Homo sapiens: one gene and its partners. The protein of the gene in region 3 purifies or fractionates together with the protein of the main gene of each other region. This does not show direct contact. Each region holds a gene or a part of one and is shown on either strand. Other genes may lie near its edges. The genes, in order: XXYLT1, ANKS6, ATAD1, PRMT8, GOSR1, SLC2A12 and COQ8B.

What was found.
Region 1: the proteins of ATAD1 (region 3) and XXYLT1 purify together in Homo sapiens (co-immunoprecipitation; one large-scale study listed by IntAct). This does not show direct contact.
Region 2: the proteins of ATAD1 (region 3) and ANKS6 purify together in Homo sapiens (affinity purification with mass spectrometry, with the first as the bait; one large-scale study listed by BioGRID). This does not show direct contact.
Region 4: the proteins of ATAD1 (region 3) and PRMT8 purify together in Homo sapiens (affinity purification with mass spectrometry; one large-scale study listed by BioGRID and IntAct). This does not show direct contact.
Region 5: the proteins of ATAD1 (region 3) and GOSR1 purify together in Homo sapiens (affinity purification with western blotting; one study listed by BioGRID and IntAct). This does not show direct contact.
Region 6: the proteins of ATAD1 (region 3) and SLC2A12 purify together in Homo sapiens (co-immunoprecipitation; one large-scale study listed by IntAct). This does not show direct contact.
Region 7: the proteins of ATAD1 (region 3) and COQ8B purify together in Homo sapiens (co-immunoprecipitation; one large-scale study listed by IntAct). This does not show direct contact.

What each region holds. Positions count from the first base shown.
Region 1 is NC_000003.12:195,268,360-195,272,382, forward strand, and holds the start of XXYLT1 (xyloside xylosyltransferase 1), read right to left. Parts: upstream 2,801-4,023; 5' UTR 2,700-2,800; coding exon 2,196-2,699; intron 1-2,195. UniProt on the Homo sapiens protein: Alpha-1,3-xylosyltransferase, which elongates the O-linked xylose-glucose disaccharide attached to EGF-like repeats in the extracellular domain of target proteins by catalyzing the addition of the second xylose.
Region 2 is NC_000009.12:98,786,556-98,790,055, forward strand, and holds part of ANKS6 (ankyrin repeat and SAM domain-containing protein 6), read right to left. Parts: intron 1-3,500.
Region 3 is NC_000010.11:87,787,227-87,790,726, forward strand, and holds part of ATAD1 (outer mitochondrial transmembrane helix translocase), read right to left. Parts: intron 3,205-3,500; coding exon 3,084-3,204; intron 1,904-3,083; exon of another isoform or gene 1,839-1,903; coding exon of another isoform or gene 1,814-1,838; intron 1-1,813. UniProt on the Homo sapiens protein: Outer mitochondrial translocase required to remove mislocalized tail-anchored transmembrane proteins on mitochondria.
Region 4 is NC_000012.12:3,494,203-3,497,702, reverse strand, and holds part of PRMT8 (protein arginine N-methyltransferase 8), read right to left. Parts: intron 1-3,500. UniProt on the Homo sapiens protein: S-adenosyl-L-methionine-dependent and membrane-associated arginine methyltransferase that can both catalyze the formation of omega-N monomethylarginine (MMA) and asymmetrical dimethylarginine (aDMA) in proteins such as NIFK, myelin basic protein, histone H4, H2A and H2A/H2B dimer.
Region 5 is NC_000017.11:30,515,408-30,518,907, forward strand, and holds part of GOSR1 (Golgi SNAP receptor complex member 1), read left to right. Parts: intron 1-3,500. UniProt on the Homo sapiens protein: Involved in transport from the ER to the Golgi apparatus as well as in intra-Golgi transport. It belongs to a super-family of proteins called t-SNAREs or soluble NSF (N-ethylmaleimide-sensitive factor) attachment protein receptor.
Region 6 is NC_000006.12:133,987,081-133,990,352, reverse strand, and holds the end of SLC2A12 (solute carrier family 2, facilitated glucose transporter member 12), read left to right. Parts: 3' UTR 1-2,772; downstream 2,773-3,272. UniProt on the Homo sapiens protein: Insulin-independent facilitative glucose transporter.
Region 7 is NC_000019.10:40,699,887-40,703,386, forward strand, and holds part of COQ8B (atypical kinase COQ8B, mitochondrial), read right to left. Parts: intron 2,808-3,500; coding exon 2,714-2,807; intron 566-2,713; coding exon 424-565; intron 289-423; coding exon 181-288; intron 1-180.

The DNA of each region.
Region 1 (4,023 bases), on a different chromosome or scaffold from region 3:
GGCAGAGGTTGCAGTGAGCCGAGATCACACTGTTGCACTCCAGCCTGGGCGACAAGAGCAAAACTCTGTCTCAAAAAAAAAAAAACAAAAAATTTAGCCAGCGTGGTGGTGGGCACCTGTAATTCCAGCTACTCGAGAGGCTGAGGCAGAATCGCTCGAACCCAGGAGGCAGAGGTTGCAGTGAGCTGAGATCGTGCCACTGCACTCCAGCCTAGGCAACAAGAGCGAAACTCCATCTCACAAAAAAAAAAAAGAAGTAACGGGAGCAATTTTATGCCAGGACTGATAACCCCTTATCCAATCACTGACATCTGGCTAGAAGTCCCCAGACACTAAACCCTCACCCCTCAACAGAGGAGGTATCAGTTCCCTCTGGTCATTTGCAGCTGCCTCCAGGCCTTGAGTGAGGCTGCCAGAACTGGGCCCAGTAAAGTGGGGTAGTCCGAGCATGAAACACTTACTCCAAGACAGGAGGGGCTCGGCCCTGAGGCTGGATCTACCCCTGGGCCAATATTTCTGGTGCCAACTAAGAGTGCCAGGCATTGTACATAGGGATGGATGATAAGACATGATACAGTCACAGCACCAGGGAAGTAGAAAAGGAAAGAAGGGACGCTTCCTTGGCTCCAAGGAGGGGATGGTATCTGAAGATGGGCAAGACTTGGAGATGGAGAGAAGGAGCACCCCAACAGTGGGAATGACAAAAGCAAAGGCAAGTAGGCTGGAAAGCACTGGCTGTGCAGCTAGCGCTGCAGCGGGAGCTGGGGACAAGGGGACAGAGATCCGGCAACGGTGCAGAGTAGGCCCAGAAGAGATGACAATGCTATCTTCAAGGCGGTGTTTGGAGACCTGGTCAAATCCCAAGATCTGCCCAGACTGACCCTATGGCCAAGGGCCCTCAGTTTTCTACCGTGAACTAGTGCAAAGTTTCTCAAATATTAGGGTCATTAGGATCACCTGGGACAGGTTGCCAGGCTCCTCCTCCAGCGAGGACCTTCAGAGGTCCCAGGGTCTAGGGACTTTCTCAGGAGAGGTGAAAGCTGAGTAAAGAATGGCCAAGGGCCCAAGAGGACACTGTGGGCAGACAGTACAGCATGTATAAGGCCCACTCCCTACATAGCTAAGGTATGAGGTGCATGTAGACAAAGGAGGAGAGGTGAAGCCAGAGAAGTGGACCAGGCTCACAACACAACAGCCCTACCAATAAACTGGGACTTCACCCCGTAGGCAACAAGGAGCTATCAGAGACTCCCGAAGCCTGTAGGATCCTGGCAACAGCTCCCCTAGTCACTCACATAATACAACTCCTGTCTCAGCATGCTTCCCCAACCAACATCAGTCTCCACCCTTTAATATTACCTACTACTCCTTAAAATCTGGCCTCGGATCCCCTCTGTACAACTATTAGGTCAAAATCAAATAAGCAATTTGACCTAGGCAATTCACACTATGTCAGAAACACATCTCAGACAAGGAGAGCCAGGCAGTGAAGACAGATGATAAACAGAGATGGAAGCTGTCATGGAGGCAGACTGGTCCAGCCTGGGACAAGGCGGCCAGCTGTGCTCTCCCCAGATCATATCTGTTCCTCTTGAGCTTTCTCTTCCTCATTCGGAGGAACTCCAGGCTTCTCTAAATGGGTTCATGACCCTTGGAGGAAGGGGAAAAAGGGACACAGAGAGGAGATAAGATGGTTCACAATGAGTTTGACCAGATCCTACTGAAATACCTTAAGAGCAATGAGAAGTGTCACTGCAACTTCAACACTTCCAGAGGCCTCACCAAGGCCCTCTCCAGTTGCTCAGGATGACTACTGGTGACCAGTCCCATCCTCAGAAGTCAAAAACTGAGGAACATAAACAGAGGTGCAGACTCTGAAGGCAGTGCTGAACCCTGCAACGTTAGCAAAATGGGGGCGCGCGGACTCTCCTGGGGGCTGCGCTTAACTGGGGGAGAGGAAAACGAGGCGGTCATTAAAAACGCAGCTCCACTCCTCAGCACCAGCTGAGGGCGTCTGGCTCCCGGACACGCCCCCGAACGAGCCCTCCCGCAGGTTGTGAACACTACATTGCAAGCGGGCAGCTCAGGGAAGATCCTACCCGCTAGTTCCCCGGATCCCCTCCGGGAGCGCAAACTGACCTCGCCTAGGATGGGGTGGGCCACCCACCGGGAGCCCCCAGCCGCGGCCCGCTCACCTTGCACTTGAAGCCAGCGGCGGGCGGCAGGAGCTCCCGCAGCAGGCCCTTGGCCACCTCGCGGCTGGCCTCCTCGCTCACGAAGTGAAGGTTAAGCACCTCGTGCGCCTCGAACTTGGCGAGGCGCAGCAGTGAGCGCAGCGCGACGCGGGCCTTGGCCTGCAGCGCGGCATTGTGCTCCGCCTTGGTGAACATCATCAGCAGGTGGTAGTCCACCGGCCCGGCACCGCCGCCCTCCAAGCTCTTGGCCTTCGCGCCGGGGGCTGGCGCCACGGAGCCCCGCGCTAGCTCCAGCGCGGGCGGCGAGGGCGCGGCGGGAGCCCCGGCGCGGGCCTCCTTCAGCCTCTTGGTGGCGCTGGAGAAGGTCTCCCGGCCTGAGCCGAGGTAGTAGAAGGCGCAGACGGCCAGCGCCGCGGCCAGCAGCAGGGCGCAGTAGTGGGAGCGCACAGCGCCCAGGCGCGCCATGGCCCGAGCGCATGGGAGCCCGCCTCGGAGGAGGCCCATGCGCTACGAGACCGCGGCGCCAGCGGTGCCAGCAACGCGGGAGAGCCCTCGGGTACCCGGACGCCGGCGGCCACTTAGCCCCGGCGCCAGGCGGCGGCCATGAAAGGGGCGGGGCCGCGCCGCCTGGAGCCAATCGCGGGCGCCGGTGCGCGGAGGGGCGGGGCCGGGCGTGCCGAAACCGCTGGGTCCTAGGTTCCAAGGGTATTAGAGGAGGGGTTAGGGTGGGATCCGGCGCCCGGCGTTGGGAGGGGGGGATTCCGGACTCCAGCGTGCTGAGGGCTGGCCCGCTGTCCCGGCTGAGAAATGGCGCCCTACGCGGCGAGCCCCAGAGGATATCCAAGCTGAGTGTTGAAGGGAATGGAGGCGCCCGAACAGAGGAACTTAGGTTAGCCAAAAGCGAAGCTGGAGGCACCAAGAGGTAAAACTTTAATCTCTGCACCTTTTTTCCCTCAATTTCTTGGAGGCTTTAAGCCGTCTCGGCCTCTCCCTGCACACGAGCTGCAGCTAGGCAATTTAAACCGGCAGCTCCTCCCTTTTCCCCCGCCCTGGGAGGAAATGGCCCGGGCCGCACGTCGCGCCGGAGGCCGAGCGGAGGGAGGCTGGAGGATGTGGCCAGCAGGGGGCCCCCGCCGCCCGCACGAACCTGCGAGGCTGCTCCCCGAGCCCCAGCACCGCAAAGCCCTGGAGGGCGACATTCATCCACTTTTGTTTTATAAACAGACTTTTAACACTTTATCAAGAGCCTCCTTGAGGGTACCAGGGAGTTTTGCACGCCGAGGTCACGTGCCCAAAGTCACACAGCTAGCCAGTAGCAATTTTGACCCTAGGCAGTTGCACACTGCTAACTAGATAAAAACGTACTAACTTCAGTCTTCTAAGAATTGAGGCTATACCAGTAGTTTTTAAGTAAACACGTGCAAGTGCTGTGCATGCTGTCTAAATAGACAAAGAACTTGAGTAAGTACAGTAACCCTTCAGTTCTTTGGCCAAGTTCTCTGATTTCTGACCAGAGATTAGGTAAACGGTTTTTCCTGTTATTTCCACATTGTAAGGTTGCATGGATTATCCAACCTCTCTGCTTCAGACCTTGGCTTACATGTCACTACCTACACAAATGATCTCTAAATACCTCCTATCCAGTGTCTGGGCTAAGTGCCATCCTCAATAATTCTGTGAGGGCCACCTAAATATATGTACTACCCTAGTCTCATCTTTCTTCATTGCAAGAACACGTGACTCCAAGAGAACAGAATATACATTTGTTTTTTATTAACCACAATATACCCAGTACCTAACACGGTGCCTACCACATTGGATGAGTCTC
Region 2 (3,500 bases), on a different chromosome or scaffold from region 3:
CTGGGATTACAGGCGTGAGCCACCACACCTGGCCAGAATCCCAGAATTCTTCATGGAAAGTACGGACACTGCCATGGGACACAGTATATCAATTTTGCCTGTGAAATACTATCAAGAAACTATTCTGCACCTGACTTTTAAAAAAAATATGTCATGTTCTTTCAAGTATTCAAGAACCAACTTTGCTGTGGGGTGGGGTCTTCTCATGCCAAGACCTTTTCACAGAAAAGAGTGTCACCTGGTCTTAGTGTTGGCTGCTAAGCAACCATCTGACACAAGTTAATCACTGACAGCAGAGCCTGGCCCCAAGAGGCAGGGGCAGCTGTGTCCTGACACCCAGTGACTCTGGGCAGGTCCCTTCCTCGCTTTGGGCTTCAGTTTTTTTCGTCTATATCCAAGCAGTCCCAGGGACCCTGCCCCAACCCAAGGAAAAGAAATCAGCTCCAACTCCACACCACAACCTCAGTGGGGAGTCAGAGGTGTCGCAATGACAGTTACAGCATCAAAAGTACCCTGTCCTGCTGCTAATGAAAGGCAGAGACCAGGGGACCTCCAAGGCCTTGGTGGGGGCTGGATTTCCGGGAACTGCACAGTAAGAGCTGGGGCTCCTATTATTTATTTCATAATCTGTCATTATCAATAGCACAGCCTGCACCCTACCTGGGGCTCTTCCCAGGGATCCCCCAGGGCCAACACACTCCCTCAGGTCCTGCATGTCTGCTGCAGTCCCACCTTCTCAAGGTTGCCCAACCACTCCATTTGACACAGCAGGATGAATTGTCCCAGCTTTGCCACACCCAACCTCTTTACACTGCCCTTTTTTTTTTTTTTTTAACCCTGTGGCACTTACCACCTATCCTACTATATATTTAATATGCTTATTTCCTACTGACTGCCTGTCTCCCCTTATCAAGGCCAAGGTCCTCAAGGTCAGGGATTTGGATCTCATTTGTTCACTGATGTATCCAAAGTGCCTAGAAAGGTGCCTGATACATAGCAGGCCTCAGTACGTCTTTGTAAAGTATCGGAATGAATGTATCATCAATCAAAACATAATAGTTTCCATTTATTGGATGTCGTCTATGTGCCAGGGCACTGCGATGAAAATTTTACAGGCCTGATCTTACTATTCCTCACAAAAATCTCCCAAGAAAAGAGCCTTTATTATGACTATCTTATGAAAAAAGACACTGTAGTCCTGCAGGGCCAATTAAGATGACCAAGACCACCCAGGTACAGAGTGGGAGAACTGAGCCTCAGACTAGTTCTGCTCAATGGGAACATGACCAGATCCTGCTGGAAGACCCGAGGTTCGCTCCTGTCAAATAACGCCGACAACACTATGGAGTAATCCACTTCCCATGTGCTCCCTCTGGGCCAGGCAGGATCTCACATGAACCCCACAGCAGCCCTGAGGCGGGTATCACTCCAGCACCCATTTGTGGAGAAGGAAATGGGAGCTTGGTGAACTGAGGCAGCTGGTTCAAGGTCCCTTGGCCAGCAGGGGCACAGCCAGCATCGAACCAAGTGGACAGTGACCTTGGCCACATCCACCAATGTGTCTGAGCCACTGCATCTTGGGGAAATGAGGGCATCGCCATCCCATGATGCCAGGACAACCCCTAAAATGAGGCCTGTCAGAAGCTAAGCCCGAGGGCACTCCGTGAAGATTCAAGATGCAGAGGCTAAGGAAACCTGGGATGGAGAACGCATGCACAACAGAAGAGGCACAGCTCGGCAGGCACGGGCAGGTGCAAGTTCTGGAGTGTTCACTTCTGAGCCTGAATTCCCTCCCCTGCAAAATGGGGGAATACCCTCCTCAGAGGGTCCCTGCGAGGGTGAGGGGAGATTCAGCATGGCAGGTGTGCTGGGCACGGCAGGGCCTGGGAAGGGCAGATCCTTTCCCCATCCCTGCCACAAACAACCCAAACCTTTAAAGGAGAGCAATGGCCTTGTGTCAAAAACAAAAACAAAACAAAACCCTGTCCTAGGAGACTGGGGCCCTAATTTCTAATAGCAAGCCTTTATGAGTCCCTAACACTCTACTGGGCTGAGTATCTCACACGCCAGAGGATAACCTGCCTTCTGCTCACCACCACCCCGTAGTAGTTGTCATTGTGTCCATTTCACAGATGAGGCAAAGGCTCAGAAGAGTCATGTGTTAAACCAGCTTCTAGAGCCCATGCAGGAGCTGCAGGTGGGAGAATCACCTCTAGGTGCTCTTCCCATGGAATCCTCACCTCCTGAGTGTCACTCACTCAGCTTCCAATGGGTGTGTGACCTTTGACCAGCTTTCTTCCCTCTCTGGGCCTCAGTTTCCCACCTGGACAAAGTAAGAGGTCTCTTGGCTTCAGGTAGTTCTTCCTAAACTTCTTTTTCCTTTTCATTTGAGCATCCTCTTCATTTTTGCCACCTCTCTGTCATTACAGGCTTTTAAAACATGTTTATTTCAGACTTGTTCTGATTGGATGGTGTATTTCTTTTTTTTTTTTTTTGGAGAGTGTATTTCTAATAAGCATTTACCAAATTTTCAGCATCTCTTGATTGATGGGGCTATTCTATATTCTTTCAATGGTAACAAACTTAACACTTTCAGGTCTTTTTAGCCAATGTGCCTGAAGCTACTTTCTTCAGTGCTTGACCTCTCAGAGCTAGATGTTTATATACACTGCAGCCCACCTACTGTTACTCCCTGGCTGTGAGTCCTGCCGTCGAAGTCAGGCCTTTTACATAGACAGAGGGTACCAAGGCTGTGTGTTGCGATCTTATTGCAAACCGTGCATTAAAGGTTTTGAAACGTGGTATGTCCTATGGCAGATTTGCTAAGGATTGTTTAGACAACTCTTTACATGCCAGAGAGATGGCAAGAAGTTAAAAAAAAAAAAAAAAAAAAGATGCACTGCTAGATGTTTTTTAAAAAACTAATTTTCATCAATTTTACATGAACTAGTGTTTGAGAAATGATCAGGGCAGAGGAGGTCAGGCACACTATTGTAGAACAAGGGCTGGCAAACTATAGCCCATGGCTCAAATATATCCCACTGCTTGTTTTTGTAGTTATAATTTATTGGAACCTAGCCATACCTGACTCATTTACATATTATATGCATAGCCACACCCATTCATTTACTCATTACATATGTAAGGCTGCTTTCACTCTAGCAGAAGTGACTACTGTAGTTTTAACAGAGACTGTATGGTCCATACAGTCTATTTGGCCTTTTACAGAAAAAGTTTGCCAAACCTTGTTGTAGAAGGGCCCCAGAACCACCTGCATCAGAATGATGTGCTTGGGGAGAGCAGCCTTGTTATAGAGGCTTCCAGGCTCTTGCCCAGGGCTACCAAATCACTCTGCAGAGAGTGGGCCCAGAACCTGCATGTCACAGGCAATCCCCCCGATACTTAAGCACACCACTTCCTCAGTCTCAGTGGTCTGCAGGGCTGGACTCTGAGTTCTGCGTGTCCTTCCAGTAGAGCAATCCTCAGCTTAAGCCACATAA
Region 3 (3,500 bases):
TTATCTTAAGCTTTATAGAGGCTTAAAAATTTAAACTCCTTTTTAAGACGGATGTTTTTGGTAATGGCTTTACTTAGTAAGTGCTATATGCAAATAAAAGATTTAGGAAGAGGATGGGCACAGTGGTTCACACCTGTAATCTCAACACTTTGGGATGCTGAGGCAGGAGGATAACGAGCCCAGGAATTCAAGACCAACCTGGGCCACAAAGTGAGACCCTGTCTCTACAAAAAATTAAAACATTAGGCAGGCATGGTGGTACATGCCTTGCAGTTCCAGCTACTCAGGACCCAGAGGCAGGAGGATCATTTGAGCCCAGGAGGCTGCAGCAGTGGGCTATGGTTACACACTCCAGCCTGGTGACAGTAAGACTCTGTCTCCAAAAAAAAGGATAAGAACAAAAAAAGTATTGGGATACACAAATCTAAATTTGAGATAATCCTCATTTGTGACAAATATTCCACCTTATTAGTGACTATTTTTCTTTTTTGGACAACTGTTTATTGGCTTTAACATAAAATTTGTCCAAATGGTGCAAAAATACACATCTATATAAATTAAATCTACTTAAATATAAAGTACTTGAGAAGAATATGGGTCTTTATAACAGAAAATCTATTTTTAAAATTATTTTTTTCCTTAGGTTACTCACAATTTAAAGAATGCACCAAAACATGAAGTATAACATTCACAAATGTAATAAAATTTATATACCAAAATAACAATACAGAATTCAGAAAGTTTACAGAGGAAGCCATATGGTATTCAGATGGATTTTGTTGGAATTTTAACTGTTGTAAATTTTTAGACGTTTGAGGGAAAAAAATCACTTTTTAAATATAACCGTCAATATCTTATGTGTGCCCCCATTTCCCTGTCACCAATTAGCGGCATCATGGTGTGCATTAGCTTCAACTTTGTATCTATACACAATAGTTACATATGACCTCATGCACTGCATGGATACTGCAGTCACTCTCCAATTATCTTTTTGTAGTCTGTGTGAAGCAGTGATCACTTTCAGCTCAGATAGCAATAAACTGTCTAAGGATAACATAAAATTGTCAATAACTCTAACCTAGGTAACCTAGTTCCAGTCCCAAAATGGAACAAACAAGGATGCATCTGATTTTACACTCTGCTTCTATACACCAATATCCAATTTATATTGAGGGTCAAAAAGTAAATTAATGATCTTCAAAACTGTTATTCTTGATTAAAAATTGTCCAGACATAAAGGTGAAAAAGTTCAAATAGCAAAACTTTATATAATCAGAAAATATTCATGTAACTTTTAAATTGGACAATGCTTTCAAATAAGAAGCAAATTTACATATAACTTTTGAAGTATTCCCTGCATAATTTGGTATCCACTCTGCTAAATGGGTCTTTAAACCAAGTCCAACTGGAGAAATCACCCAATTACCTGGTCTAAGATAACACTGATAAAAAAAGAAGCTTTCTCCAACAGCATATAAAAGGTATTTTACTTTCCTAAATTCACTAGCATTGTCCAATTGAGAACTAAAAATGCAGAAAAGTCATTTTTTGTTCAGACTACAAATAACCTGGAAGAGGGTAGTAAAGACTTAACTAATCCAACTATAGCCATACATTTTTGATCTGGGCTCAAATAATCATTCAAAGTTTTTTTTGCGGCAGGGGGGAAATCACAATAAACTGAGTGTTTTGTTAGGAAAAACTATAAGCAGTGTTGTTATTTCAGAAAACAAAAAGAAATACCTAATAGCTTTGTTGTTTTAATAATAAAAGAACATGTCATTTTTGCTGTTAACTGTCATCCTCCACTTACCAGAAACAAAAATTATGTAGTTCATAAAAATGCACAGGTACAGGCTTCAGTTACCTTTGATATGTAAATTAATGCACTTTATTGATATAGCTGCAAATTTAGAAAGATTATAAGCATTATAATTTAAACATACATAATGCTATTTTGATATTTTTAAAGATCCACTTTTTTGAAAAATCAATGTGACTAATAATTTAAGTCTTGACTAACAACATATCAAACCCATATAGTTTTGGCAATGCATTAGATAAGAGTTTCTGCTAGATGAAAATAAGCTATCTCGTGAAATTTGGATCTGAACGCCATAGTAACACACACATATATCTCTCACTGTAAATTATTTACACTCCATCTGAATCACCTTTAACAAGCCTTAAGCATGACAGAAATATGTGCACTAGCTGGGCACAATGGCTCATGCCTGTAATCCCAGCACTCTAGGAGGCCAACGCAGGTGAAGAACTTGAACTCAGGAGTTCAAGACCAGCCTGAGCAACATGGTGAAACACCATCATTACCAAAAATATAAAAAAAGAGCCAGGCGTGGTGGCACATGCCTGTGGTCCCAGCTACTCAGGAGGCTCAGGTGGGAGGATCACTTGAGCCTGGGAGGCGGAAGTTGCAGTGAGCCAAGATCATGCCACTGCATTTCAACTTGGGTGACACAGTGAGACCCCATCTCAAAAAGAAAAGAAAAGAGAGAAAAGAAAAAAAAAGAAAGATTTGAATGAACAAGAATTACACTTAATGATGCAGTTATGAGCATATTCAATTCTTGAGTTCCAAGACTTTCAAAGTGATTTTGAATAAGCAAACATCTCCATCAAAGTTAAATATTTAATTTCTAGTTCATCTGCAGATAAATATTTCCTGAAAAAGAATCATTACATTCTAAAAATAAGATCGTTGGAGCTGTGAAACAAGAAAAAAATGTCTTGGCTTGAAAACAAAACAAAACAAAACAAAAAACTTGTATTATGACTTTGAATCTTTCTTTAATCTTGATTTTCCAAATTTTAATTTACTTGGAAGTAAGAGAAAAGAAATTGAAGGAGATTATTTTAACAAGTATTTTAACATGTAAATACAGGAAAAAGTTTATCTCAATTTCAGAAGCTGAAGAATGAGCAATTATTTTAAGAAACTGTTCACATAGATCTCAGCATCCTCTTGAGAATCTGATTTCACAAAAACTAGTTCTACAATGGCAGAAAGTTTCAATGTTTTCTAGGATTTTAATGCTTTAGGCGAATATATACCTTTACCATACCTTTTGGAGGCTGCAGAAGCCTGGAATTCTCAAACAAATGTTTCTTTTTGATAGGTAAGATGACTGTGTCTTTCAGATCCGTAATGACATCATCTAAACCTGCTATATCACTCCAAGTAACCTGGCAAAAGTTAAGGTCAACATGAATTTTACTACAAATGTACACTCACTAAAGTAAAAAGAACGCTCCCAAAATTACAAATGTTAATCTGATGATTATACATAAATAAGTTAAAATCATATATTAACATAAGTAAAGACTTTTCCAAGCAGTAATGAAATAAACTGCTATGAAACTGGAAAAAGGAATTTAATAGTCAACTATCTACTATTAAAAATCTGTAAGTCAGGTACTCAAAAATCTGCAAGGGTCTAATAAGCTAAATTCATTCCACTTGTAAGGAGAAAATACTCTGC
Region 4 (3,500 bases), on a different chromosome or scaffold from region 3:
AGTAAGAAAAGACATTTGATGTGTGAAATATCCAGTGGCTATTTTGGCTGGATAATACTGGAGAGGCAAATCTCAAACACTCCTCTCCTAGCTATTCCTATTAGAAGTCTAATACCAGAATATCAGAAAAAGGGATTGGAATCAATTGGAACAAAAACTAGTAAAAATGGTGAGACAACCCCAAATGAAAAGGTAGCAGCCAGTTTTCATCTCTTTTTAGAATAACATAAACGAAGGTGACTCAGATTGCAATCGAAGAGGTTGAGCTCAGACTTCAGGGAGAACTTCCGACTACTGAGACACTCGAGGAGTTTGGGGAAATTCCCTTCTCTGAAGCTTTTTAACAAGAGACCAAGTGGCCAACAATGCATCTTCGGTTAGGTGGTTCTCAGGGACAGAGGCATGGACAGAATGACCTTTCAGAGGTCCCTTCTTGCCTGTGCTCACTCTATCTTGTTACTAAGCCAGTTCACAACAGCACCACCTGCTTGCTTCTCACACACAGAGGCTGCTTTCAGTTACCTTGGCTGTTCACATATTTTCAGGCTGCCCATTTTCCCCCTGCTGGCAGAGTAGACTCCAAGGTGTAAGGACTGTTTTTACAGATTTTTGCATGTTCCACACTGGTATGTGATAATCACTTCACATTGCAGTTAGCAAAGAGGAGGAAATGAAACCCACTCCTGAATTGGAGACAGGAGTGTTGTGTTTCACTGTCTTTGACAGCCAAAAGCCAATTTAGGACTCTGAAAAGCCAAATTAGCCAGGCAAAAAAAAAAAAAAAAAAATTGGGTATCTTCTTAATTCTCCTGAGCTCACTTAAGGACTGAAATCAGTGTTTGCGGAGGGAGGAAAAAGTCACATGGACTATGGTTTTATGGATCATTTCAGCTACAGAAATGAGAAAGTGGGAGAATACTTTCAGTTTGCACTTTTTTGGCAAGACTCCTAAAAGCTAGCAGGATAATAATCATAAACGCTTATTGAGAACTCACCATGTATAAGGCAATGTTCTAATTCCTTTGCATAAATTAACCCTTTTCATCTTCACAACAATCTTAAAAGGCCCAGAGACATTAAGCAACTTGCTCAATGTAGCAACACATCTACTAGGTCCAGAACTGGATTGAAAACCAGGAAGTCTGTCTCCATAGCCTACTAGTTAGTGTACACACTCTGCAGAAACAGACATAGATGAAGACCATCCTCAGAGAACTATGCCTGGTTCCTCCTCTTCCTCAATTCCCTAACCCCTGTAATAATGGGACCACATTCTTCAGCTGAAAGTAACTTCCTGAGGAGAAAGATCTATTAGCCAAAACCACCAAGATACACCATGCAAGAAGTCAGCTCAGTTATCCCCATAACTCACTGCAACCCCTAATCTCATTGTCACATTGTAGGATTTTTTCCAACCTGTAATTATTCCCTCTCCCTGGGCCAGCAAGTCAACAGAACATTCAAAAAAAAAAAAAAAAAAAAAAAAAATATATATATATATATCAGTTTCCAAAGTGACTCTTTGCTAAAACTGTTTCCCAACTCCTGGGGGCTCTCCTTTGAGGTGATAAAACCCTAATCAGGGAGTCATCGCCATAAATAATGCATCATGCATCAGACTTTCACCAAGTATCAGTAAAGCAAGCAGTAGCTCAGGAGGGTCCATTATCCCCCATGGTTCATAATTGGGCATTGTGATTAATCCATTTATCTGCTATTCAGATGAGCACTCCATAGTAAGAGTCGATAATTACTGAATATTGAATAAGTACATGAATAACCAAAATGTACCCATGATTTGACTGGCTTCAGCACCTTGATTCCCAGAATATTTACCCATTTTGAGTTTCAAAGGTTCACAGCAACTAAGTACAGCAGACAGGTGGGGTGGGAGATAGGAATCCCAATTTCCAGGAAGCCATGAGTGACTAAAGCCCATTAGGCTCAAGAGTTTGTTCACAATCACATACATCAATTCAGTCAACATTTATTAACATTTATTACTTATTGTGTGTCAGGCCCACAAATTCAAAAAAAAGTGCATTATCTAATAGACATATAAATAGACACACAAAAAGCCAATTATCTTGCAATAGGAAAAGTGAGAGACAGGCGTTAGGAACACATAAGAAAGGGTAATGCCCCTCCCTGGGGAGAGAGGATAAATGGCAGATCTGGGAAGCCTGCCCAGAGGAGGTAACGTTTGAGCTGGGTCTTGCAGGTTGAAAAAGATTGTTTTCCAGAGAGAAGAAGGAGGAAAGACCGGCACAGGCAGAGGGAAGAGTATGCACAGAAGCATTCACATATGCAGTCGGAGGTCTTTTCCAAGAATTGCATGATGCAGGTATTGATGGGCTTTGCACACCATGCTAAGGAAACTGGGCTTTATCTAGCGTCCTGTAGGCAATAGGACAGCATCCTAAGTTTTTAAAGAGATGCCTGATCATGAGCAGATTTGTGCTTCAGAAAGCTGATCCAGTACAGTAGGATTATGAGGCTTGATTAGAGAAGAGGACAAACAGTTCAGAGGAAAGTGCCTTAGTGAGGGCAGAGGTGAGATGATGTGTCTTGGGCACTGACAATGGGCTGAAGAGGAGAGTGGGACTGGAGGCTTTGCAAATGTTCCAGAAGGCCACAGAGGAGGTTTCTCATGACACCTAGGGAACAGGGGAGAGGGAGAAGAGGCTGGCAGAATGGTGATTCCCTTAGCCGAGGAAGAGAAGCATAGCTGAGTGATCAGGAGAAAGCGTACATGGAACTAACACTATTGCGTGTTTGCCATGTGCCAGGGGCTGTCCTGGCATTTCCTTATACCCATACCTGCCCTATTCCATGAGGAGAATCAGCTCAAGTTAACAGAGAAGGGAACTGAGGTCAGAGCGGTTGAAGAGTGCCCCCAGGGCCACCCATTGCCAACAGTGTCCAGCAAGCACGTGATGTTGATGCTCTCGTACCCTAGCTGGGTACTTCGCTTTGTGGAGGGAGGCTTTGGTCAAAATGTAAGTAGTTTTATTCTTCACTTGCTCCCTTCCTGCCCAATGGTTAGAGTATCTCTCCGTAGCTTTAGCTTTTGAACGAACACTTTCTCCCATCCTTGCCCACCTCCATCACTGCATCTCTCCCTTCCAAAGTATTCCTCTCTGCCCACTCCTCATCTACTCCCATTCACACATGGCATCTTGTTAGAAATAGCAAGGGCAGGGCAAACAGCAATGAATCAGAAGTGGGGGCAGTCTGTGTTTCAGGGCTGACTTAACCCACCAGAAGACTTTCAGCAATTGCTTGACCTCAGCCTCGGTGTCCTCAACTATAAAATGGGTATAAGAAATGAATACTAATCTTTGCTTATCTCACAGGATTGTTGTGAGGATGGAATGAGATAAACAACAAAAAGCAGGAAAAGGTGGCTACAGGATTATCCATCATAGTTGTCCATGAGACTGTGAGCCCCTCCAGAGGAGGGACCAGGTGGTCCTCATGTTTGGAACTTGGGTACCTAG
Region 5 (3,500 bases), on a different chromosome or scaffold from region 3:
TGTTAGGCCTCACCATGCGTGATCAGGCGGACCTGGCTGTTTCACTGGGGACTTCAAATTGCCAGACCTCTATGTCTCTTCTCCTGAGCTAGGTCTTCTACTGGACTAGGGGCAGCCACCTAGCTGCATGCGTTAGGAAGGGCAATTTTGGGTTATGGCAACTCCTTGTACAAATTTCTACAAATCTCCATTTTTAACCCTACTCCACAGTTCTGCCCTCAGAGAGAGTGATCCCTTCCATTCTTGAGCATTTCTGAGATCTGTGGAAAACTTTTTAAAATCATTGCTTGACTCATAATTTTATTGAGGTGCATCACAGTGGTGGATTTGGAGCTGCTAATGTATTTTTTTGTTTGTTTTAGTTTTACCCAGTTACATTTCTTTATTCTGAAATGTCATTTCAAAAGACCAGACCATAATATCTCCACATGAACAGATATTTTTCTAGAATAGGCCTAAAAGTATTGGGAAGATGGGATTGTCAGCATTAAAACACATAGGAAATCAGGACCCTGGAAGAACTGTAATATTCTCTAGGACTTTTCATTTTCTAAATTTGCAGATATTGCCTGTGATTTCAGTTGAAAGTGATCCAAATCCTAGTGTGTCCATGTTAATTGTGTGTGTAGCTTCAAATGTTATTTAACGTTTCTTAATCAAGTGGAATTTTTCTAATGTTTTCATTTTTCTTTTATTAGACACTTGTATATTGTATATTATACAAGTACAGTGTTCTTATTGTAACAACTTAAATAATACTAAAACGGATAAAGAAAAAGTCAGCCGGGCGCGGTGGCTCACGCCTGTAATCCCAGCACTTTGGGAGGCTGAGGCGGGCGGATCACGAGGGCAGGAGTTCGAGACCATCCTGGCTAACACGGTGAAACCCCGTCTCTACTAAAAATACAAAAAATTAGCTGGGCGTGGTGGCAGGCGCCTGTAGTCCCAGCTACTCAGGAGGCTGAGGCAGGAGAATGGCATGAACCTGGGAGGCGGAGGTTGCAGTGAGCCAAGATCGCGCCACTGCACTCCAGCCTGGGTGACAGAGCAAGACTCCGTCTCAAACAAAAAAAAAGAAAAAGAAAAAGTCAGTCTCCTGGTAGTACCCCTCCATTCTTAACCCCTGAAGCAACTTGTGTTAACTGACAGTTGTGTATCCTTCTGATACCTTTTTCACTGTCATACAGACATCCCCAAAGATGTTTGTTTCTGTAATTATTAGAGGATTCATATTCTATACATTCTGTGGCTTGCTTTAATCACTCAATATGTTATAAACATCCCTTCAAGTTAATAGAAATACTAACTTTGTTTTGTTTTGTTTGAGACTGCGTCTTGTGTTGTCACCCAAGCTGGAGTGCAGTGGCGCGATCTCAGCTCACTGCAACCTCTGTCTCCTGGGCTTCAAGTGATTCTTCACCCTCAGCCTCCCAGTAGCTGGGATTACAGGCGCTCACCACCACGCCTGGCTAATTTTTGTATTTTTAGTAGAGAAGAGGTTTCACCATGTTGGCCAGGCTGGTCTTGAACTCCTTGGCCTCAAGTGATCCACCTGCCTTGGCTTCCCAAAGTGCTGGGATTACAGGCATGAGCCACCGCGCCTAGCCCTAACTCATTTTTTTAAATACCCAAATACTATGTAATCACTGCCTGTGATTTCAGTTGAAAGTGATCTAAATCCTAGCATGTCCATGTTAATTTTGTGTGTGTGTGTAGCTTCAGATGTTGTTAACATTTCTTAATCACTCAGGTGGGATTTTTCTAATGTTCTTTTCATTTTTCTTTATTAGATATTTATATATTATCGAAGTACATTTGTATATTATCAAAATGTTCTTATTGTAACAACTTAACTAATACTAAAATGGATAAAGGAAAAGTCAATCTCCTGGTAGTACCCCTCCATTCTTAACCTCTGAAGTAACTTGTGTTAAGTGACAATTGTGTATCTTACTGATATACAACTTTTTCACTGTCATACAAACATCCCCAAGGGTGTTTGTTTCTGAAAATATTACAGCATTGATATTCTGCACATTCCGTAGCTTGCTTTAATCACTCAATATGTTATAAACACCCCTTCGTGTTAATAGAAATAATACTAACTCATCCTTTTTAATAACCAAAGTATGGTTATATCATAATCTATTATACCATTCAAATGTTACTTCCAGTTTTGGGGGATTTTTTTTTTTTGGTCTTTTTGCTGTTGTTGTTCATTTTTTACTATTCCAAAAATGCTTCAACAAATATTCTTTTACAGATTGAATGTTGCTTATCCAAAATACTTGGGACCAGAAGTCTTGGGGATTTCTGATTTTCAGATTAGGGATGTTCAACCTGTATATACCTCCTTACACACTTTTGTTTCTCTTTTGCCATCTCAAATCTTGAAATTCAAGTTTTGATTCATGTGTCATTTGTTTAGAATATTCCTTCTAGCATTTCCCTTCAATAAGATACATGGTGGTTTACTCTGTGAGACCTTACCTGGCCAAAAATGTGTTCACTCAGCTCCCAGATAGATCCAGCTATGAGAGCCTCTTAAGCAATGGCATATCAGGCAGTGATGCATCCATCACTGGGCTCTTCCCTTAGGGGCTGGGCATCACACCAGCTACAAGACTATCGGCTCTCTGCTTGTCATCTTTCTGGCTGCATGTAGCAGTCCTTTCCCAGCTTCAGTGCCTGGGAGCAATTTCACTGCAACCCCTGTGTATGCAGATCCATAGTCTTCCACTGTCTGGGTTCCTCAGGAAGCAAGGAAGCCCTAGGTCTTTGCCTCAAGCTTGAAGAAAAATCTAAGCTTCCCTGCTGTCAGTTCCCTGGTTCTCTCTTCACTTCAGAGAGTATAGCCCTCTACCTGGCTTTCTTCCCTGGAGATCTCAAGGGAACTTGGGGCCTCAGATGGACCCTCCTTAGTGTGTCTGCTTTTATTCTTGTGCTACTCCATGGAGGAAATGGACCAAAGGTCAAGTCAGGAATTTATACTCTCACCATCATCTTCCCCAAATCTCAATCTCTTGATTTAAAAAAAAAAAAAAATAGATATTTTCAAAATTGCTCAACAGCATTTCATTTTCTGTTGCTATTTATAATGTCAACATGCAAAGCACTCCTCTGAGTGTTACATATCAAAGTGGATACTGACCCTGCCCTCTAGGGCTCTAATGTCCAGAGAGATAAGACTATGGGAAATGAATAATCCTGGAAGTGATAGCAAAATGATACTAACTTAGGGCCAAGCTTGGTGGCTCACACCTATAACTCCAGCACTTTGGGAGGCGGAGGTAGGAGGATGGCTTGAGCCCAGGAGTTTGAGACCAGCCTGGGCAACATAGGGAGACCCCATCTCTAGAAATAATTTAAAAATTAGAAAAAAAAAATTAGCCAGGCATGATGGCACATGCCTGTAGTCCCAGCTACTCAGGAGGCTGAGGTGGGAGGATTGCTTGAGCCCAGGGAGTCAAGGCTGCAATAGCCACAGTCACACCACTGGG
Region 6 (3,272 bases), on a different chromosome or scaffold from region 3:
TATCCAAATCTCTAAGCAATTAGGTTGAAGTTATTAAGTCAAGCCTAGAAAAGCTGCCTCCTTGTAAGGCTTTCATGACAATGTATAGTAATCCACAGTGTCCAATTCTTCACACTCCTCAGGAATATCACTACCTCAGGTTACGGTACACAGGCTATAATTGATGATGATGTTCAGATAACTGAAGACACAATAAATGACATTCAGACATCAGGACAATTCCCTCATGTTCTTTTCTATGATGGCCACCTGTACCAGCAACGTGGGTTTCACCCACACAACGATGAACTGTTCTCTTACTTCTCCAGTTGATTTTAAAGACTTGTTAAGAGGTCTTACTAATAAAATTTGGGTATGATAGAAAATCCACAATCAAATCTTGAACCAAATAACATATTAAATTACTAATATTTAAGTGATGGAAGACACACAAAAAACTTAAAAGCACGAACAACCTAACTTGAAAAAGAATTTTAAAATATGATTAACCTGAAGAAAAGAGAATCCTAAGAGCCAAAGCTCCTTTTTATTTAGCTTGGAATTTTCCTATTGGTTCCTAACAAACTGTCCCAATGTCATATAAGGAAACATGATCTATTACATTCCTTTATAACAATGTGGAGAGACTATAAACCTATGTAAGTAGTAAAACTATATCAGAGACTCAGGAGACTGACTAAAAGGCCTGGATCTGCAGTGTATTATCTGTATAAAAATTGGCAGGGGGAAGCTAAAAGGAAAGGAGATTGGAGATCTCAATTCTATCATGGTGTATTTCATACGCAAATCAGAGCATGCATTGTTTTTTGTTTTTGGAAAGAGAAGGGAAGTGTGTTCTGCCCCATGTTTCCTTCCGTGTTTATAGTTCAAACTCTATATATACTTCAGGTATTTTTTGTTTAGCCCTTCATTATAAATGGGCAGGAAATTGTTTATCAACCTAGCCAGTTTATTACTAGTGACCTTGACTTCAGTATCTTGAGCATTCTTTTATATTTTTCTTTTATTATCCTGAGTCTGTAACTAAACAATTTTGTCTTCAAATTTTTATCCAATATCCATTGCACCACACCAAATCAAGCTTCTTGATTTTCAAAAATAAAAAGGGGGAAATACTTACAACTTGTACATATATATTCACAGTTTTTATTTATAAAAAAAATTTACAGTACTTATGGAGAGCCAGCAGAAGACATCAGAGCACTCACTTCTTCCCATCTTTGTTAAGGTTAGCGAATTACCCATGGACACTGTTAGGTGAGGCTCATTCGGCAGCCCTGAAAACAAACCTGGTCACACTGTCTTTACCCTCTCCCTTCAGATAAAGCACTTCGATTATCTATTGATCTGCCCAGTTTTCAAGTCATGCGAATACTAAAAAGGTTACATCATCTGGATCTGTACCTTGGCTATATAAGCATGTTTTCCCCCTATTCTATGTTTCTTTTTTTGGTGAACATTGAAAAACAGGAGGTGACTTATTACTGTTAATTAAAACTAAATGAAAAATGTCAAGTCTTTAAAACAGTGAGCTTGTAACTCTTTCATGTAATTTTATTCTCTATGAATTTGGCTATCCTACTGAATCTTAAAATAAAGGAAATAAACACTTTTTTTTTAAAAAAAAGGAAAAATACAAGTCTAAAAATCTCAATGAAATATTTCACAAGAAGGAAAAATGTAAGTTAGCCTTTGCTTTCCACTTTGGAATAAGCAGGAGGTTAGGGAAGGCATTGAGAAGAAAAAAGATAAAAATAATATGTGTTGTTCAGTGCAGTGCCTAAGCTAGGTTTTCAAGATTTTATAATACAGTAAGGAAAATGTACTATATATGGAGATTAGGATGTTGCAATTTTTCCACAAAGGTTTAAAAACATTTTGGAAATACAAGTTTTTGTGGAACATTGTGTTGGAATATTGTCCCCATTAAGTTTCTCCTGAGAAGCTAATTGGACTCTCCACTCAGCTTTATTTCTAGGTATAATCACTGTTGGTTACACTAAACTCCTAAACCTAAATGACAGGGCACAACTACAGCTTGATCCTGTATTACCACATCAGGGCTCCTGGGTGAGCCAGAGACACTGTTTCATAAATGCATATTTATTATAACTTTAAGAGTAGCAATCTCATATACTGAATAGTCACTCTTTAACTCCATTAAATAAGATACAGCAAGGGGAAGGACAGTATCACACAAAATGGCTTTCAAATTCAAGTGGGGCTATTTGATAATTACACTGTGGCACAGAGGCAGCTTATGGGCACTTCTTGTTAAAACATCTCCATGTTACCAACTTCTGACAAGACTCTTAGTATAGGCTTGGGCATCAACCCAAGATTAAAGTCAAGAACCTCAATCACTTCTCTACAACTACAGGTGTTGAGTCTTTCCAGAAAAACAAAGGTCCAAATGAGGCACCATTCATCACAGCTTCTTTCTCATTTCCATCTAGTGGGTAAGAGGTTTCTCTTCTTAAAACTACAATTTCTTAACCTTTACAAGTTATTTAACATTTTCTATCATATTAAATTAGCAACATAAAACATTATCCTTTATCTATAAACTTCTAGTCTGGTTCCCTAGAGTTTATATACACGTTTTTATTTCTAATCTGCAAGAAAAAAAATTCCTATTTGTTATTTGGTAACAGAGCATTAAAAGATACTATACACATGTGGTGCATATATATATATATATATACACACACACACACACACACACACAAAATACACTTCAAAAAGAAGCCAACACACTTTAGCCAAAGTCTTAAGCTTGCATAGATTTTAAAAAAAAGAAGTATGAATACAATTTTTGTTAAAATAGAAAATGGGGAATAAAAGTTATAGAATGAAGAGAGATCTTTTCCAAACTTTTATTTGTGCACATTCAATTGAAAAAGATAACTTTTACAGGTTCTTTGGTGCCCATATTCAGCATACAAAAATGTAAAAGACTATTCACAAATAAAACACATTAGCTCAAAATGGAAAAAAATAACAATGACGACAATAAAACAATCTAAGGTAGTGCACACTGTGACAGCTCTGCTTATGGGGACATGAGAATTACTGCGAAAATAAATAGAATGTCCTTTTGTAAAAGCAGCAATATCATGTCTTGTAAACTTCCTTTTATATTACAGCAAGGTTTGGAATAAAATCCAAAGGGACTGGAGCTTACACTGTAGCCGTGAATGAATAAAAGAGTCTATTTCCTCAATTATTGTTGGTCCAGTTTTCCTTTTGAGTCCAATGTGCAGCAGGTTTAA
Region 7 (3,500 bases), on a different chromosome or scaffold from region 3:
GGCCCCAGGGATGGCAAAACCACAAAAGGGAAGGAGCTGGGTCCCTGAATCCCACTTGGAAAAGGGCCACCCCTGCCTATTGTGGGGGTAATCAACTGCTATTTTGTTGAGCTACCGAAATATCAAGGAATATTTGTTACAACAGCAAATGTACCCAGACACACATCACTAGGAACCAACCTGGTGGCTGGAGGCATCATACAGGAAGTTGGCCCAGTTGGGGTCAGTCTGCATGAATCGGAACTCAAACAGCTCCCGCAGACACAGCGTCAGGAGCTGGAAGCAAATCTGGGGTGGGGAGAATTAACAGGCATCTCAGTGTGATCTCCCTTGTGGTGCCACTGCTGGCCTGGAGAGAGACCATGAGCCTGGCCCACCCGCCCTGGGGCCATGCCCTTCCCACTGTGCCACCAGACAGCATACCTGGTTCCGCAGGTCCTGGCTTAGGCCCTGGCACTGGTCCAGGGGGACCCCTCCAGCCAGCTCCATGCCCAGCACCCGTGTCGTGCACAGCTCCTTAACCACGGCTGGGACCCGGAAGAAGGGGTCATTTGCCAGCAGCTGCCTGGGGCAGAAGGAAAGGGAGGAAGGGGACTTCGTGCTTCAGGCTTGTGACCCAGCTTGAGACCTCCTCCTTGTGCTCTCAGAAGTCCTCCATGAACAGTCTGCGCCATGCCCTCCCTCCTGCCCATCTCTTGCTGCTGTCTGCCCTGGGTGATGACCAACACCTGGCTGGACTGAGATTTAACAAGTATCTCCAAGGTGCCTACTCTGCACCTGCCTCTCAACTGGGTGCTGCTGGAAACCCAGTCACCACTTCCCTACCCGAAACCCTTCTATGACTTCTGGTTGCCCCAGAAGGATGAGTTCAGGTGTATTTCAGCCTTTGCATTACTTTTTCATTAATTTATTAATTCATTCATCCCAAAAGTAGTCACTGGTATCAAAATCTGTGAAGTCTATAGTGATACCCATGGGTCAGTCCTTGCAATCACTACTCTGAACACAGGTAAATAGCGGGAAAGAATCTTCTGTGTCCATCCTTGTGCTAAATGATGCTGGGGACAGAGCAGTGAATGAACCAGTCCCTGGACCTGGCCCCCAACCCCGAGACCACACTCTCACAAACAGACGGATTATAGATTGAGGTAAGTGTGTTGGCTGGGTGCAGTGGCTTACACCTGTAATCCCAGCAGTTTGAGACACCGAGGTGGGAGAATCGCTTGAGCCCAGGAGTTCAAGACCAGCCTGGGCAACATGGTGAAACCTCGTCTTTATGAAAAACTACAAAAATTAGCTGGGCGTGGTGGCCTGCGCCTATGTTCCCAGCTACTCAGGAGGCTGAGGTGGGAAAATCACTTGAGCCTGGGAGGTCGAGGCTGGAGTGAGCTGTGATCTCACCACTGTATTCCAGCCTGGAAAACAGAGCGAGACCCTGTCTCAAAAAAATAAAAGAAGTATGTCTATGTAAGATTTGGGAGGCAGAGAATATGAGCAAGGTCTCTGGTTGAGGATCCGTGGGATGGCTGGAGGAGAGTGAGGGAGAACAGGAGGGTGGTGTGGGGTTTTATCCTAAGGGCACCCGGGAATCCTGTGGGGGACGGGGGGGTCTCTGGCCCATCACCCCACTTCACACTCTCTTCCTTGAGCTCCTCCTTTGGGGTTTGTATTTTTGTCCTTGTTGATAAAAATCTCTGATGTTTGAACTGCTCCTCATGAACCGGAGCCATGTGGGGCATTTAATCGGCACACTCCCCTTTCATCCTCACTCCACAGTGAGGGGATGCTCTCTGGAGGCCACTGTACAGATTGTATGGATGCAGGCCACGTAACCTGTTAAGGGCTGACCCAGGATTTCATCCCGCATCTGAGTCTAGGGTGTGTGCCTCTAACCACTGCCTTCTACTGAGCTTTCACTCTCTGTCTACAGAGCTTGGCACGTTTTAGGCTGTCAATAAATGTGTGAGCCACACTGTGGAGGACCCCACTGAGGTGCCATTAATTGCTACACATCAGGATGCTTCCAAGATATAACCACATTGTTCCACGTAGCCATAGTTCATGCATTTTCACTGCTACGTAATATTCCACAGATGAATATACCGTTGCTTATTTGTCCACCCTGCTGGATAAACTTGATGGATATGGGTTGTTTCCAGTTTGGGGCTGTTGCAGACAAGCGTTCTAGAACAGTCTGATGATGGATACTGGCAAAAGGGTCCCTAGAGTGTTCAGCAGGGAGGGCAATCGTTGGCTTGCAGAGTTCTTGAATATAAGGGCTTATGTGATGATGCCAACCTGTTCTCAAAATGCTTCTACCACCTTCTCCCACAACCTGCAGTGCAGAAGGGATGCTGTGGAGCCCACTCTCTCTACCTCCCAGTGCTGTGGGCTCCTTGCTCTCCGTCAGTCCAGCAGAGGTAAGAGTGTGTCATTGTGTAATTAATTAAGTGCCTGTGTCGGACCACAGTGGATATGCGGCCCATCTGACACAGGAGAAGACTGCCGCTTGGGAAGTGACCTGCCCAAGCTCACAGAGGACAAAGGGGGTAAGCGAAGTGATGGATGAGTGGAAGGATGGATGAACAATGATTGAAAGAAAGAGAGAGTTTGCCCTACCCCACAGCTCCAGCTGCCAGAAGCTGAGGGGGCAGCTACTTCCCACCCAGCCTGGGAGGGAGGGAAGGAGGGAAGCTCAGGGCACTCAGCTCACCTGAAATTCTGGGCACAAGCCGCCTCACGACGGTAGTCACACTCCCAAGCCAGCTCCTGCTGCAAGGCCTGCAGGCTCTGCTCGGCAAACAGGCCTGTGGGGGAGGTGTGTCAGCCAGGGAAGGGCCCCGAGCGCCCACTGGTGGATGCCTTCTCCTGCCAACCCTCTCTCTCCTGTCTCCCGCGCTGTCCCTCACAGCTCCTACTCTAGGCCTGTGACCCACATCTGTCCCTCTCCTGTCTCCCACGCAGCTCCTGCTCCTGCCTCTGACCTGCATCTGTCCCTCTCCTGTCTCCCCCGCTGCCCCTTGCAGCTCCTGCTCCAGGCCTCTGACCTGCATCGTATCATCTGTCTACACATTTCCCTCGTCCTTCATAGCACCACAGGGTTCCCCGGGGTCTTCCGAAGCCTTTTCTGGGCTCTGTCTCTTGCACATGCCTGCACCCCAGTCCCTGGCAGCTCTTTCAGAGTCACGCCTGCCTCTATTCTGTCTCCTTTTCATACTGACTCTCACGTTGCTCACTGCATCTGAATCTCACTTCTGGGCCTGGCTTTCCCTCTCCCTCTCCGTCTCTTACACAAACACAACCCACCCTCCTTTCTCTAGGCGCCTCCTCACGTGCCATCCCCAGGACTGTCCTTTTCTGCTCTGCCGCACCTACAATCCCGCTCCCTGCATGCACACCCTCTGAGAGTCTGCTGCTGTATCTTGGCCCTGGGCTCCCGTCTCTCTAAGGCTCTGTTAAAATCCATAAGGCTTTTCCCACACCTGCTCATGCTCCCTGGG